Linked DNA regions of Homo sapiens: region 2 is linked to region 1. Evidence: fine-mapped expression QTL. Tissue or cell type: esophagus muscle. Region 1 holds a variant in brackets; the other region holds the start of a gene. All regions are shown on one strand. Distances are from middle to middle.

The links. PIP is the estimated chance that this variant, and not a neighbour inherited with it, causes the effect.
Region 2: GLRB starts here. The variant in region 1 is fine-mapped to the expression of GLRB in esophagus muscle (GTEx, PIP above 0.99).

Annotation. Positions count from the first base shown.
Region 1 is chr4:157,162,794-157,170,968 of GRCh38, forward strand. It overlaps GLRB (glycine receptor beta), which reads left to right. Exons shown (of 10, transcript NM_000824.5): 10 at 7,639-8,175. The coding sequence ends at 7,935. Among named protein-coding and RNA genes, the nearest start is that of GRIA2, 54 kb to the right of the region's middle. The variant GT/G (reference allele first, on the strand shown) is at 3,340.
Region 2 is chr4:157,072,215-157,080,403 of GRCh38, forward strand. GLRB (glycine receptor beta) reads left to right here and starts at 3,936. Exons shown (of 10, transcript NM_000824.5): 1 at 3,936-4,083; 2 at 5,782-5,932. The coding sequence starts at 5,811. RefSeq lists a silencer at 1,043-1,337.

The DNA.
Region 1 (8,175 bases):
TGAGAAGGCAGTCTGTCCATTCTCAGATCTCAAACTCTGTGCTGGGAGAACCACTACTCTCTTCAAAGCTGTCAGACAGGGACATTTTAAGTCTGCAGAAGTTTGTGCTGCCTTTTGTTCAACTAGGCCTGCCCCCAGAGGTGGAGTCTAGAGAGGCAGGCAGGCCTCCTTGTGCTGTGGTGGGCTCCACCCAGTTTGAGCTTCTCAGCCACTTTGTTTACCTACTCAAGCTTCAGCAATGGCGGACACCCCTCCCCCAGCCTCGCTTCCACCTCGCAGTTCGATCTCAGACTGCTGTGCTAGCAGTGAGCGAGGCTCCGTGGGCATGGGACCCTCCGAGCCACGCATGGGATATAATTTCCTGGTGTGCCATTTGCTAAGACCGTTGGAAAAGCACAGTATTATGGTGGGAGTGTCCCGATTTTCCAGGTACCATCTGTCACAGCTTCCCTTTGCTAGGAAAGGGAATTCCCCAACCCCTTGCACTTCCCTGTGAGGCAGTGCCCCACCCTGCTCCATGGGCTGCACCGACAGTCAGACAAGCCCCAGTGAGATGAACCCGGTACCTCAGTTGGAAATGCAGAAATCACCCATCTTCTGCATCACTCACTCTGGGAGGGGTAGACTGGAGCTGTTCCTATTTGGCCATCTTGGAACCTATGATCATCACAGCCTTTTTAAAGTCCAAGCCTTGGCCCCCTCACCTCTTGGACATTGCTGGCATGTCCGTTGGGGTGGGGTGGGAGCACATTTTTTTCTGTAGTATTTGGCAAGAATAGAGAGGTTAATATCTAAAAGTGTTCTGTATTGCTGGGCTGCCCCTTTCTTTGTCTTCTGGCTAAACATCGGAGGCTGTTGGGGTTTTTATGTCTGTACCCATTGGCATTTCCACTTGCTGGCTTCTTTAGCTCCAAATCTGGGATTATATGAGACAAAAGGGGGAATGCAGGAACTCACCATTTTATGGTTCCTGGGATCCTGAGTCCCCAGGCTCATCTGCTTCCTCTTCTCTCCCTTTTATAGTCTGTCTGTGTGAGTGTGTGTGTGTGTGTGTGTGTGTTTTAATATAATGTCCAGGATTTTTTATTGAACTTAGCAGGAGGAATAGGAAAGGTATGTCTACTCTATCTTCCTGGATGTAGAAGTCCTCTATGCTTTTCGAGGCCCTCAGCATCCTCATCATACCTGCACCCTGCCTACCACACTCTAATAATTAAATAGATTTATCAATGGGCTACTCTTAACACTTTCATTGTTGTTGCTGTTCTGTCTACTGGGTCATTTCAGACTTACTAAAATCCTACACCAGGAAAACAAACATTTGGAGTAATTATTATTCCCTTTACCAGTATTTTTTTTTTTTGTCTCTGTTACCACCCAAGTCTAAGAAGCCACATAATATCCAGAAGAACTAAGGGATTGCTTAAGGGCATGCTTTGGCATGACGAAGAACTGGTATTGAAAGCATACTGTTTGTGAGAAACTGTGCTTCCCCTTCTAAAGCATACAGTTATTTCTCCAGGCCAGAAATGGAAGGAAGATTACCTGAGAGCCTTATGTTATGTGGAAGTGTTCTCTACCTGATTTTTTGACACTTGTTATCTACTCCTCGATTTACATCTCCCTATCTTTTACCACTTCCTCACATTTCCAGCCCACCAATCCCCTCTAACTTGACCTCTGGTTAAGAGATTTGGATACAGAAAGCAAGGATGCTCTATAGAACAGGTGCTTGATTCCTGGTAATCCCTACGATCAGCTCCATTGGCTGGTATATTATAGGTCCTCAATAAGCACAGGAATTAAATGTAGTAACAATACTAATAAGCAATTAAATTAAATTCTGTTACTACATTAAATTAAATGTAGTAACAGAATACTAATGTGCAATGATCCTGATACCTTAATCTATTCCATCAAGTAGGGGTACTGATAGAAGGAGGCTATCTAGAACCAGCTTTCTAGAGCATTGTAGAATACATTCAGATTATTTATGAACATGGATAGCAAGGATGAGAGGATCCATGAAGTAGTAAACCCAATTATGTTATTTTAAGTTTATCTTTAAAGCATTAAAATTAAAACTAATAATTAAAATAATTACCCAATAAATAAAAGTTAAACACATATAAGAACTTTTATATTTTAATTCTCTATGTTTTTAACTGCTCATAGAAACACACTTGTTTGAATTCTGAAACTGCTGTGACATTTTGCTTCAAAAGACAACGAGAGATGCATAGAGTTAAGAATTGACCAGAAATTTTAATCTTTAGAAATAAATGTAAATTACTTTTATTCTTTACAGGACAAAAATGCACTTTCCAGAATAAACTTTGTACCCATAGAATATTTGTTTCCTGAGACAGGCTTCAAAATGATAACATGAGTCTAATAATAACTTACATCAAATGTGTAACTTGATGAGTCATAAGATTTTACATATTGACATATGAAAGAAGATATAAAAGTAGAAATTTATAAATTATTATCTTTTTAATTCAATGGTTTTGCAATGAAAAATGTAATTAAACTTTTGGTTTCAAAATGCATTTTTTCTAATGTACTTTGCCTTTCTAAATGCAAACTTTTGCCAAATAATTTCAATATTGTTATTCAATAGAATAACAATAATAATTAACAGAAGTGTAATATAATTTGGATTGTAGGAAATGTTTGAAGCTGATGTATAAAATAATATTGTGCTTCCTAAGGAAATGAATGATTTAAAAAGTAGAAAAAAATTAAATGATAATGTATAGCTTTTACTATGAGGTTTTTATAATTTGTGGCCTGTATACAAAAACATGTTACCATGCCTATATAATTGTCTGGAGGATTTTTTTTCCCAGTAAAAGTGGTGCTTTTTCAGTCATTCCAATATCTTGGTTACTTTTGTTTGTTCATTCATGTATTCCTATTTTTATTCAACAAAGCAGTTAAGAACCTACTGTTGTTAATGTCACCCTATTTCTAACACTAGTATGTGCCATACACAAAGGTTTTATGAATAAAAGACAAAGAAAATAGTACCTATGCCTACAATTTTATATAAATTAGAAAATAAAAGCTGCTGTTTATATGTAAAGGAGATCTTTTAATGGTAATGATTTAATGGACTTAAATTTAGCAAAATATATACAAATTATTCCCTCTGAACATATTTTATTGTCTGTAGAGGATGCCATTATTGACATGAAATCGTGCCTAATTATTCTGGTCAAGAAATACTGCATAAAGTTATTTGCTTTTAAATTTGTGTGGAATGAAACTTAAAAGAACCACAAAGAAAATCTTAGAGGCTAAAGTTGGAGGCATTAGAAAGTTATTAATAGCATC[GT/G]TTTTTTATTCTTGACAGTTTCATTATCACACTACCTCATTTTTGTTGCCAATAATTTTCAGAAGTGACAGAAGTTTATATGATGAAAGTAAATGAGACACATATTTGTAATAAGGAACAACTGAGAAATTATTAATTGTAGGTTAATATAGCCAAATTCGCTTTTAAGAATGTGTGTTAAGTAGGGTTAATGTCTTGTTTATAAGCAGTTTATTTCATCTCTTTTCATGTGATGTTATAACTGTTTAAAATAGTATTTATAGTGTAAACTCTTTTGTACTTTCATGTATATATTTGATATGATAATAAGGTGTAACAGAAAATTTTCTTTGTGTAAAATCTGTGATGAATGGGGCAAGGAGACTAGCCAACTACTTAATGAACCATGACCTATTTAAGAAGCCCTGAGTACTTCTCATTAGGGAAACTAATCTTATTCTTTATTCAGTATGTCATTATCATTAAAAATTACTTCTGTAATAGAGGTTCCGTCCACCCCACATGTGCACCTCTACTTATTCTTGAATACAAGAATCTTCAAATATATCTCCGAGAGACGTTTTAAAGACTTAAATGGCTAGAAACTTAATATAACCAATTTGCAGCTTTTTTGGAATGCTTTGTAATGTTATGGCTTCAACACTGAAAAAATTATTCTCTTACTGACATGTTTACTATAAGTAATCTCTGTGAATAAACATAATATTCTATATCTATAGTTTGAATAAACTGGATCAAATCCTAATATTATTTAAATTGCTGGCAGAATTTATATGGTTATATAAATAAAATAGATTAGAAAATTGGAAATATTTATTTGTGGCCTAGGTTATAATATTATATAAATTTGGCCATTTGTTTAGTTATTTACAGATACTAAAACCACACCTAAAATGATATAAAAATATGATTTATAGCAAATGCATTTCTACAGTATATTCTAAATATACTTGGTTTTAAGCCATTAAGTCTATAGGCAGAATCTAGAGTACTCCTTTGTTATGATAAGTAGCTTCAAAAGCATAATGAGTACATCTAAAGCCTTTATAATGGGGAATTCTAAAGGGAGAAAGAGCAACTATGATACACATAGAATCCTTGATTTTAAAGATTTCTCTGAAAGTCTTAGGGCAATGCAAAGATTTGATATGTACAGTCTGTTCTCCACTTCTATTCCAATCAAGATAGTGAGTTACTCTTTACAAAAGTTCACTGATACATGTGGAGACTCACACATTCCTCAAACTGCACTGGAAAACTGAAGATTAAATGTGGTCTTCTCTCTGATGTTCTGTCTGTAACAATAATAGGGCAGATGTGAGTGTGCAAGTCTGTGTGTGTGTGCACATGCATGCATGCCTGTGCAAGTACTGTTGGAGGTGAGGTGGTGGACAAATTGATGAAAGTAGTCTTTTAAAAATTCAACTTAGATAAATGGGGCAAAAATTAGATGTATATTTGTATATGTTTCTGTGTGTGTGTGCATTTCCTGAAGTCATATTTAAAGAGTTTAGATTTTAGTTGCTACTTTTTCTCTCTCTCACTCTTTCGACTTGTGTATAGTCCGTTTTGTGCTGCTATAAAGGAAATACGTGAGGCTGTATAATTTATAAGAAAATGGGTTTATTTGGCTTATGGTTTTGCAAGCTGTACTAGAAGCATGGCATCAGAATCTGCTTCCAATGAGGGCCTCAGGAAGGTTACAGTTATGGTGGAAGGTGCAGGAAAGCTGGCATGTCAGATGGCAAGAGTGGGAGTGAGAGGGAGGGCAGGTGCTAGGCTCTTTTTAACAGTCAATTTTCACTTGAACTAACAGAGGGACAACTCATTCATTACCCCAGGGAGGACACCAAGCCAGTCATGAGGGATCTGGCCCCGTGACCCAAACACCTCCCACTAGGCCCCACCTCCAACACCGGGAGTCACATTTCAACATGAAATTTGGAGGAGACAAATATCCAAACCACATCAACCAGTTCCTATTTTTTTTTTTTTGTCAGACATTTTGCTAGATACAGAGTATAAATTGATAGGGACTAAAGCCTGTCCGTACTTCTTGATGCCATGCAGATGTAGGCACTGCTCTTTCACACTCAGTTGAGCTCTCACAATTGGTAAATTGTAACTGCACATTAAAAAAGTGGAGTGAGGGGGTGCAGACAAGAAGCCACTTTTTTCACATTGGCCTACTTCTTGACACACATTCTTAGAAGCGAATTTGGCTATATTAACCTACAATTAATAATTTCTCAATTGTTCCTTATGAATATGTGTCTCATTTACTTTCATCATATAAACTTCTGTCACTTCTGAAAATTACTGGTAACAAAAATGAGGTAGTATGATAATGAAACTGTCTAGAAAAAAAAATCATGCTATTAAATACTACCTCAAAGTCCTATTGAACAAGGATGGGACTATGTTTCCATTTGGGCTATTTTATAATGAACAATTGCTAAATAAGTCAACATGTTGGTGATTTACATCTTTTTTTTCAAATATCAAATGTATAGAAAGGTGAACTTCTAGTTCCTCAATCCCTATTCCTCATCAACATTTTTTGGGTATTTTTCTGCAAACATATTTACATAAATATCTTTTTAAAAGTTTCTTACCCACTGGCATTTTACAAATATATATATGGCATAAAGTATATAATAACAAAGCCAACATTTGTATGCTAGCTTAAGAAATATAACATCAATATATGCTCATAATTAGAGAAGAAATGGTAATAATTTAAATGTATAATCACAGAAGGATGTATAAATACATTTAACTTGCTTTGTCAGTCACTTTATCTTGGGCATTTTTGCTATCCACCTTTGAACACTGCTATCTGGCTCTTGTCTAGGAAATATATATATAAATATATGTGTATTCAGGTAAAGGATAGTCTCCTGGTACCTAAAGTACTGTTGAGGAAAGATTTGTTTTATTTATTGTGTGAGGTATAGTGTTTTTAACCCAGCTATAATTTAGTAAATGTAAATAGAATCTATAGAATTAGTCAATGTATTAATTATATTAATAAAGCAGTTACTAGAGTAACTGTGATATACTAATAATATACAATTAAATGGTTTCCATGTTCAATAAAAATTGAGTAAATGTCAATAGTGAAGATTCTGAAGGTGAATAGCAAAACTCAATGGTAAGAACAGTGAGAAAATGAAGCAATCTAGCCAAGAGCTAACCTTTTTGTGGACTTTTGTAATATGTAAGTGCTATTCTCAATCATTGGTATTAGCCTACTCCTCTAATCTAAGAGCATTTTGATTACTAGAGAGAGTTCAGCATAAAATATAATTGTCCTTTTGTATCTGTGGGGAATTGGTTCCAGTATCCCCTGCAGATATCAAAATCTATGCATACTCAAGTCCCTGCAGTCTGCCCTGTGGAACCTGTGGATACAAAAAGTTGACCCTCTATATCCATGGATTTTGTGAACACTGTATTTTTGATCTGCATTTGGATGTAAATTCAGAACCTATAGATACAAGGGGCAACTGTATTTATTGAAAAAAAGCCCATGTATAAGTGGACCCTTGCAGTTCAAACCCATGTTGTAACTGTAATTATTTTATATATTATAGGGAATTTATTCAAATTTAATAATTCAGAAATTAGTGACTGAATAATAATCTCTGTAGCATATGGTCTATCTGAAGGATACATAATTCCTTTGTATTGTCTGAGCGTGATTGGTTAAGTTCAGCCAACAAGTTGGGAATGCCTATCACTAGTAAACGTTTGATTCATGACAATTGTGACCATTTTTTAGTCCTTGTTTGTGAATGTGGCTTAGAGAAAGTCTGTCTCATTGGAGAGATAAATTACTTAGCATTTATAAACCGCTCTACTTGGAAATAGGATCTATAAGGAAGTCAAAGGCTAGTAATATCAGAACATTTTTATAATCCATACATTGTAGAATATTGTCTCTGTCATGGTTAAATATTGGAGCAAAAATGGATGTTTATTTATTAGTCCTACAACTGAGAACTTTCACAAGCCTGGTAGCACCTAAAATTAATCTGAGCTTTGATTCCTTAGCATGAAATAACCAATCAAAAGTTCATTCCATGACATAAGCCTTATTATGTAGGCAATATTTTAGAGCCCTAAATGCTCAGGCAATCTGATGGTTTAATCAGATAACCATTCTCTCTGTTAGTTCTTTGTGACATAAGCAAATGCTTCTTGTAGAAACTAGCAATTTTAAAAATATCGTTTGAAGAGATGTGTTTCGTAAGTAGAAAAGTTTTAAATACATTGTCTTCAATATTTATTCTTAGGTTGGTGAGACCAGATGCAAAAAAGTTTGTACTTCTAAGTCTGATCTGAGATCTAATGACTTCAGCATTGTTGGAAGCTTACCAAGAGATTTTGAACTATCCAATTATGACTGCTATGGAAAACCCATTGAAGTTAACAACGGACTTGGGAAATCTCAGGCTAAGAACAACAAGAAGCCTCCCCCTGCGAAACCTGTTATTCCAACAGCAGCAAAGCGAATTGATCTTTATGCAAGAGCATTGTTTCCTTTCTGCTTCTTGTTCTTCAATGTTATATATTGGTCTATATATTTATGATAAATCTTTTCCATTTGTACAAAATAAAATTCCATTTCATTGTGACCTACTCCTTTCATAAATGCCAATCTGTGAGAACTTTTGAATTTTCATAGCAACATTGCATTTTGGATGCCATTTGATTGTAATAAAACTGTGGCACCTTAATTTTGAATGGCAGCATGATCATGTAATATCTGTGCTCTAATAACGATGTATATATGTATAGTGAACATATTGCTTAGTAACAAATGAAGGACA
Region 2 (8,189 bases), 91 kb before region 1:
ATATCTTTAAACCATGTTGTAAGGCTATTTAGGCAATGGCAACAGTGATGAGTACTTATGTCACACACAAAAAATGATTTGGTGAGAATACTCTCTCTGTATCCAAAGTTTGATTTCTTAGTATAACAGAAGATATTTAGGGCTGTATTTAGGTTTTATTATCAAGTCAAATAAAATAAATATATTATAGGCCAGGTGAAGATGGATGCATAGAAAATAGAGTCCTTAGCTACCCAGGAGTCTGAGGTAGGAAGTTTGCTTGAGCATGAGAGGAGGAGGTTGCAGTGAATCAAGATCATGCCACTGTACTCCAACCGGGGCGACAGAGCCAGACCCTGTTTCAAAAAGAAAAAAAAAAAGAAAAAAGAAAGAAAAGAAGGTTAGAAGGTTTTTAGTGTTTAGATGTAGGCCTACAAAATGTTCTCAGTGTAGACGTACAAGAAAGAAATGGATAACAGGGTCCCAGTAAGCAAAAAATGCATGTACCCACAAAAATTAAAAATAATTAAAAAAAAAACAGCCACAACAAAATTCTATCATTCCATTAAGCAAATAAAAACAAGCAAAAATAGGGGAGGTTAATTCTTTGTGACTTTTCTTCTCTGCAGCAGATTTTTAACGTCAATTAACCTGTTTATTTCTTGGTACAATCCTGCAAATTATGCATTGTCATTTTCATTTTACTAATAAAGAAACATGAAATTTGAAGAAATTAATAAATGAGGCCAAGATTTACACATTCATTCAACACTATTCTAGGTGTGTGGGCAACATCAATGGACAAAAATAGATACAAATCTCTGCCTTCATGAAGCCTACATTTTAGCAAGGAAACAGAGGCCACAAACTGTAAGTATATTGTATGATGAGTTGGGAGGTAATAAGTACTATGAAAACAAAAAGAAAAGCAGGCAAAGGGGGATTGGAAATCTTTGGATGGGAGATGGTTTGCACTTTTAAATAACATTGGATAAATCTCTGTGAGACGGTGACATCTGGGTTGATGTTGAAGATATGAGGGAGTCAGTCATGTGGTGGTCTGGGGGGAAAGCATTTTAGACAGAGGAGCCAATAACCTAAGATGGGACCATACCTGGCTTTGGCATGTTGGAGAAGCAGCAAGATCAGCAGGGCTGAAAGAGAGCGAGCCATTAGGAGAGAAGAAGTCAGAGTTAGGGGGAGGAGATGCATAACAATTGAAGGTTTGTAGACCATTGTAAACACTGGTTTATAAAATGGGGACTAACTGCTGGGTGTTGAGTTGAGGAATGACACAATATGACCTATGACATGTTTTAAAGGGATCACTCTGGCTACTGTTTTGAGATTACTCAAGGGTAGGAGAGGACAATGATAGAGGCAGGGTGAGTAGCTAAAGTGCTATTATAGTAATCTAACGTAGAGATGAAAGTCACTGAGTCTAGGTTGGCTGCAGTAAAAATCATAAGAAGTAGCTGAATTCCTGTTGTCATTTGAGAGTAAACAGGATTTCCTCAGAGATTTGGTTGTGAGGTGTGAGAAAAAGAGCGGAATCAAGAACAACTTCATGATTTTTAGCCTGACCAACCCTAAGGATGAGGTTGCCGTGAACTGAGAAGGAGAAGGCTGAATGTGGGGCAGATTTTAGGGAGAACCATAGCTCAGTTTGGGACACACTGAGTTTGACATGTTTATTAAATACGCAAGTTGAAATGTTGAAAAGGCAGTTAGATAGATGAGTCTGGAGTTCTGGAGAGATGTCTAGTCAGGAGAAGTACATATGGGAGCTATCAACATGGTGTTTAAAACCTTGTGACCAGATGAAATTACTAAAGGAGTGAATATTGATAGAAATAAATAGAGAAAAGTAGATCAACACTTGACAGAATTGGGGAAAATAGGTTATTTCATGACATTATTTAGAAGCATCCCTTTTCACACTATGATATAAAAGTTATAGAAATATAGGTAAGCAGATCACTTTCATAGAAAAAAATTTTCAGAATTCTGAACTTGACCATTTTACAGGCTAGAAGAAGTGCTTTTAGGGCATCAACTATATTTCTTAACCTTTGGGCCAAAACCCTACAAACCCATCCAACCTGCTGGACTTGCTTTTCTTCTGAATAACCTAATTCTCCAATATAACATCCATGGATGGCACAGAAACAATACTAGGGAAGGTGAGCAAGTCTGTTGTAGGTATTTTCAGCATAGTTCTTCCAAATGTGGACATTAGAGTTTGTAAATAAAAGATGTTCATTTTATTACAGGAATCGGAATTCCTATTATTCTAAACTCTTAATAATTTCTTGATTAATTGAAAACTAAGTGTAAGGTTTTCGCCAACTTCTAAACTCCCCTGGCTGCATGAAAACTAATTCCTTTATCATTCTTCATATGACCTATTCACCAAAAGTTATATCTTATGAAACGTATATTATCAATATAGTTCTCTCTAATAAAGCATTAAAATCCAAAGTTATATCCTGATCCACTTTGGCGGGGGGGTCTTCAAACAGTACAGCTCTTTGAATAATGATCATTTTGTAATGTAAATAAGGTAATGATCACTTATTAATGATCACTACTCTTAGGCAGCAGAATATCTCATGAAGCTTATGGAACACGGTTATATGCAGGAAATATTCCTTCCCTCCATATGCTGCGGGTGGAAAAATTTATTAGTGGATACATCTGTGGGTCCACAATACAATGCTAAGTGATGCTCACTTGAGACAATGCTTTTTTAATAAAAAAAATCCATCAGGACCTGGTGCAGTGGGGTGGGGTGGCTCAAGCCTGTAAGCCCCCCAGCTTGGGAGGCTAAGGCAGGCGGATGGCTTCAGGCCAGAGTTGGAGACCATCCTGGACAACAAAGCCAGAGATGCTGTCTCTTAAAAAATAATAATAATAATTAGTGGAGCGCAATGGCCTGTCTGTTGTTCCAGCTACTCTACTAGGGAGACCGAGACAAGAGGATCTCTTGATTGCCCAGAAGTTCAAGACTGCGGTGAGCGATGACTGTGCCTCTGCACTCCAGCCTGGGCAACAAAGTGAGCTCCTGTTGCTTAAAAAATAACAATTAAAAAAAATCAATCAGGCATACATTCAAGAGGTAATAGGATAGCCTTATCTGTTATCTAAGGGCTGCATATCCAAGTAAGGGCTACTTCTTCACAAGGATGAGGACAACAGTATTTTGCTCTTATAAGGCAGAGACCCTGTCTGGTTCAGATATGCAAAAATCACTAATTTTGAATCTCTGGTAAATTTCTTTCAAGATCTGTAACTCTAAGTAAATCTCTTAATATAACTGAGTTTCAGATTCTTCATCTACAGAAGGGGATGACAAAACTTGCCCAGGAATGTGGTGAGGGCCACATGAGATAAGGCGAGTGAAAGGTGTTTTGCAACTGTCAAGTTCTGTACACATGTTAATTATGTAACAGATGTTAAACATAGTATTACCTGTATGACTATATTGTCAGTAATTTTGACCAATTTAAGCTTGCTCAGAAAGTTCAGGCTTTTAGAAATTGGAAGACCCGGAGATTAAGCTGGATGTCTGGGTTCCAGGCAAATGGTGAAATGACAGAAAATGTGTTTTGTTCGCTTTGACCCAAGAAGGTCATTTGTTGCTCTGTTGTTTGTTGCTAGTGGTCAAAAGCTGACCCCAAGCAATCCCAGCTCCTTGAAAGGTTTTTTCTTTTTGTACCGACACTATCATTCCCGCCCTTCGTCCCCAACTCCTTTAGTCCCCTAAGGAGTGAGGGGGGTACACATTTCTGCTCGGTAACCCCTCCAATGCCTGAAGGGGACGATGCCGTGACGTTGCTCTGTCGGGACACCTCTTCCCTCCCCCGCCCGCGGTCGCCAGGTTCCCCCGCGGCCCGCGCTGTCCCCGCTGCGGCCCCGACCGCGGCGCGCCACGGCGCAGGCTCCGCGGCCCGAGCAGGCGCGTCAGCCGAGCTCGGCGGTGGCGCGGGCGGCTGGGACGCAGCTGCCCCCGCTCGGCGCCCGCTGCACCCTTAGCAGCCACTGCCACCTGGGCCCGGAGCCTCCACGATCTCGCCCGGCGATTGTGGGCAGGGGCGCCTCCGGGTAAGTGCCAGGAGCTCCACTTAGGAGGAGGGGACGCGGGTTGGGGCGGCGACGGTGGTCTGAGGACGGGAATAGACGCCTTTGCGGAAACAGCGGGTCAAGCCCGGGGCGGCGGAGCGCGAGGAGCACTGCGGCGTGCCCGGGAGGACGCGCGCTGCCCTGCGCGGGAGAGGGGCGCGGGGCGCCTGGCAGCGGCAGCCGGGTCCCCGCTGCGGTGGCGCCCGCGGAGACGCTCCGGGTGGAGAGATGCAGAGGGCCGGGGTAATTAGGAAACGCAAGGTTGGCCAGGAGGGCTCCTTGCGTTGTTTTGTTTATGAGGATCCTCCAGTCAATGCAGCTGTCCCCCTTGAAAGATTGGGGGTGAGGACAGAGCAGAGTGGTGAATTTCTCTGTTTTTCGAAGCGTTAGGGGGGCTCGGCCCTCCTTTTTGCGGGGGCAAGGATGTGAAAGTGGGAGAAGTACCTGCTGCTGTGGGCAAGGTGTCTGGAAGCAGGTGCCGCTGTCGGATGGGGGAAGGGAGCGTCCAATGTTGTGAAGTTGCCAGAGGAGAACCTTGTGTTGTTGCTGTTGGTCTGATGAGCCCCCTCTGTTGTCTTCAATTTAAAGTACCCAGGGAGAAGCCCCTCTGGCTTGCCTGGAGTGTGTGTAAAAGATAAATATGGGGGGAAGAATCCTGGGGGGGGGGGGGGAAGATGAAAAACATGACATAAGGAGAAGCAAATTTCTGAGGGTGAGATGGGAATTAAGTTAGCGTTGAAGAATATGACAGGTCTTTTACTCTGCGGAAAACAATGAAAGAGAAACAATTTATGGTTTGGAAATGAAGGTTGCAGAAGAGTTTGAACTTCTCTAGTGTAGGTAGAGGCTTAATTATTTTTTATTTATCAGAATCTCTGGCAAGAATATGGTTCTGATTTGAGCATGAAAATGTTATTAAAATATGGCTAGGACGATAATTTGAAAAAAATGTAACAACACTTGTTTTATTTCTTGTTGTAGAATTTCTGAAGTAATCTTTTTGATGACAAATGTTAGTAGCAAATAAGTAAGAAAGCTTTAAAGCTAACTTAAGAGGCACCTTTTTGGGGCAAAAAGGTAGCTTGCCAATGTAATGTGTTTAAATAAAAAAAGCAATGAATTTTGAATGTGGAACTCTTTGATATTAACTTTTTCTTTTATCTGTCTTTTTTAATACTTAGAATTTCTTTTTCTTTAAAATACATTATTTTTGAAAAAATATACATAAGAACTTCAAACAATATAAAAATTTAAAAAGAAAAAGATACTTCCAAAGTACTAGCCGAAGATAATCATTTTAACGCTGTGTTAAACCATGCTTCCAGATATCTTTCTGAACATATTTTTGATATACTGTGCAATTCAATATCAATTTATAATTTTGTGTAGCTATAGAATCAGAAATTTTATACAGTAACCTATTATATCTCGTTGGCGGTCTTGTTTTCTATGTGCCATTATTTAAACTGACTTTTACTGCTATATAAAAAAGACTTTACAACTACTATATAAAAAATACTAAATATGTTGTGAAGTATTACCACATAGGACTGAGCAATGAGGATTTGATGTACAAATGTACTTGCCCTTTGGGTAGTAATGCTTATACTCTTTAAAGGGACAGTCATATAGTTATCATTTTCTTCATAAATGTAAACATTTTCTTGTTCTCTCTTGTAGATCGATCTTCTGAAATTCAAGTTTTCAAGATGAAGTTTTTATTGACAACTGCCTTTTTAATTTTAATTTCCTTGTGGGTGGAAGAAGCCTATTCTAAGGAAAAGTCTTCAAAGAAAGGGAAGGGGAAAAAGAAGCAGTATCTATGCCCATCGTATGTTCTTCATGTCTTATATTCTTATATGGAGAAATGTTATTGCGTGTTTTATAAAAGTAAGGTGGTTTATGAAGACACACATCAACAAAACTTTTCATATCGGAATGTATATCCATCTGTTACAGAGACAGAAAATGATAGGGTGAGGAGAGGTTTAGAATGTAAGAATTAATTCCCAATGTTCAAGGTGGTTTTATAGTTTTCTTTTTTTAAATCATGCCATGGGTTTATATAATTTTTATACACTGTTTACAAAAGTAGAAAAAGTCACTATTTTTTTCTTATGCTAAATGTGCTGTGCAACTTTAATTGGATACTGATATACTGTGTTTTGAGCAAATACCAGTTCAAAAAGTTTTTTTTTAAAAAAACCCTAAAATATTTAATAATATTTTATTTAAAAGTCAGATAGGTAACTGTGATCTTAAGGTCAGTTCATATGTATGCATGGCAAAAGGAAATTCATATGATAGATCAATTTTCTAATTTAGTAATTGTAAATAGGTTATATTAGGAGATTAGGATATTTTGTAGAAAGCAGGTCATTAAATTTGAAATTACTTGAAAACACAAATTCTAAATCCAACACATCCCCCACAAAAGACAAAGTTTTGTGGTGTGGAGTCTTGTTTATTTTTTTTAGATGAAGTCTCTTTCTGTCACCCAGGCTGGAGTGCAGTGGCACAATTATCTACTCACTGCAACCTCTACCTCCCGGGTTCAAGCAATTCTCCTGCCTCAGCCTCCCAAGTAGCTGGGATTACAGGTGCCCACCACCACGCCCAGCTAATTTTTGTATTTTTTAGTAGAGACAGGATTTCACCATGTTGACCTGTCTGGTCTCCAACTCCTGACCCTGGGTGATCTGCTCGCCTTGGCATCCCAAAGTGCTGGGATTACAGGCGTGGTTCACCGCACCTGGCCAAGTCTTTTTTTTAATAGGAAAGATTAACATTACTGGTCAATGAAAGTAAAATAGAGCAATTGTACAGTATATAAGTAAACAACTTTCTCAAAATATAACGTGCTTTTAGGTAATAATGCAATATATGCAGTGATTTGGAATAAAAGTTAATTTTCTATTACAGGTCATCTTCAATTAATATTTCTCAAATGTAATATTGATCATAGATAACATTTTATTCCAGCATCATTATTATTTAAATAGAGATTATTATGGTTTTACAGATGTTCCATAAGAGATGAGGTACATTTTGGGAAGTATATTTTGTAAAGAAAGGACACTAGAATTGGTATTTTGTAATAGGTGTTTGTATGAATTTGTGAGAGTAAAATTCTGGAGAGAGTATCATGATCCACGTAATGTCTAGCATTAAATTCAGCTCCATGTGAAGGGATATTTCCTGATTTTCACCCTTAATAGTCCTGCTTATTCTAGTGCTGCAGCATATTCTGATGTCAGGGCCAAATTTCTGGGTATATGACACAATGGCCCTGAATTATGTTTGTGTGTCCCTCCTTGGCCATCTGCCCAGCTGGATATCAGCTGGGAACAATGGAGGCAGGTTCAGGAATAACCACAATCTACAACCATCTCAACTCTTCACTGTTACTGTTTTTGTGCCACAAGCTGGAGATTAGCATTTTAGGGAACTGGACATTGTCAGGCCTTAGTATTCCTAAGCGAAAGGACACTTCTTTGTGTTTTAGATATTCTTTCTATTACCTTTTCTTTGATGAATGTTGGGACATTAACACAAACTGTTGTCTATGTCATATAGTCACCGTAATTCTATGTATGGAATCAAGCCATCTTGGGTTTCTGTATCTGAGCAAGCTGATAAGGCTCCTGTTCTCCCAGTACACCCACCCCCCATCCTACATCAAATGTCATAATCAAATTATTCTGAAGATGGCAACAGCAAATCTTATAACTACCATATATATTACGAGAGTATTTTAGAGGACATTCTCTTTTCACAACTACATTATTAAATAGCCTTATGTGTAGACTGTATATACTTACGGTGTGTATAGTTATTTAAGACAGATTTTCAAAGTTAAATTTAGTAGATAAAGAGTATAACAATAAGAGTTCTCTTCTGATGAATATGACATCTTCAAGTGGAAGACCCAACATATACCTGTTAAGCCCACATCTCAATATTTTAGATATGTTGAGTAATTAATTGAAATTTTATCTTTGAATTTTTACATTATAGGTTTTTTAAAAATAATTATGAGACTAGATCAAGCTTTATTAACAGTTGTGATGTGATGCTGCTGGAAGTCT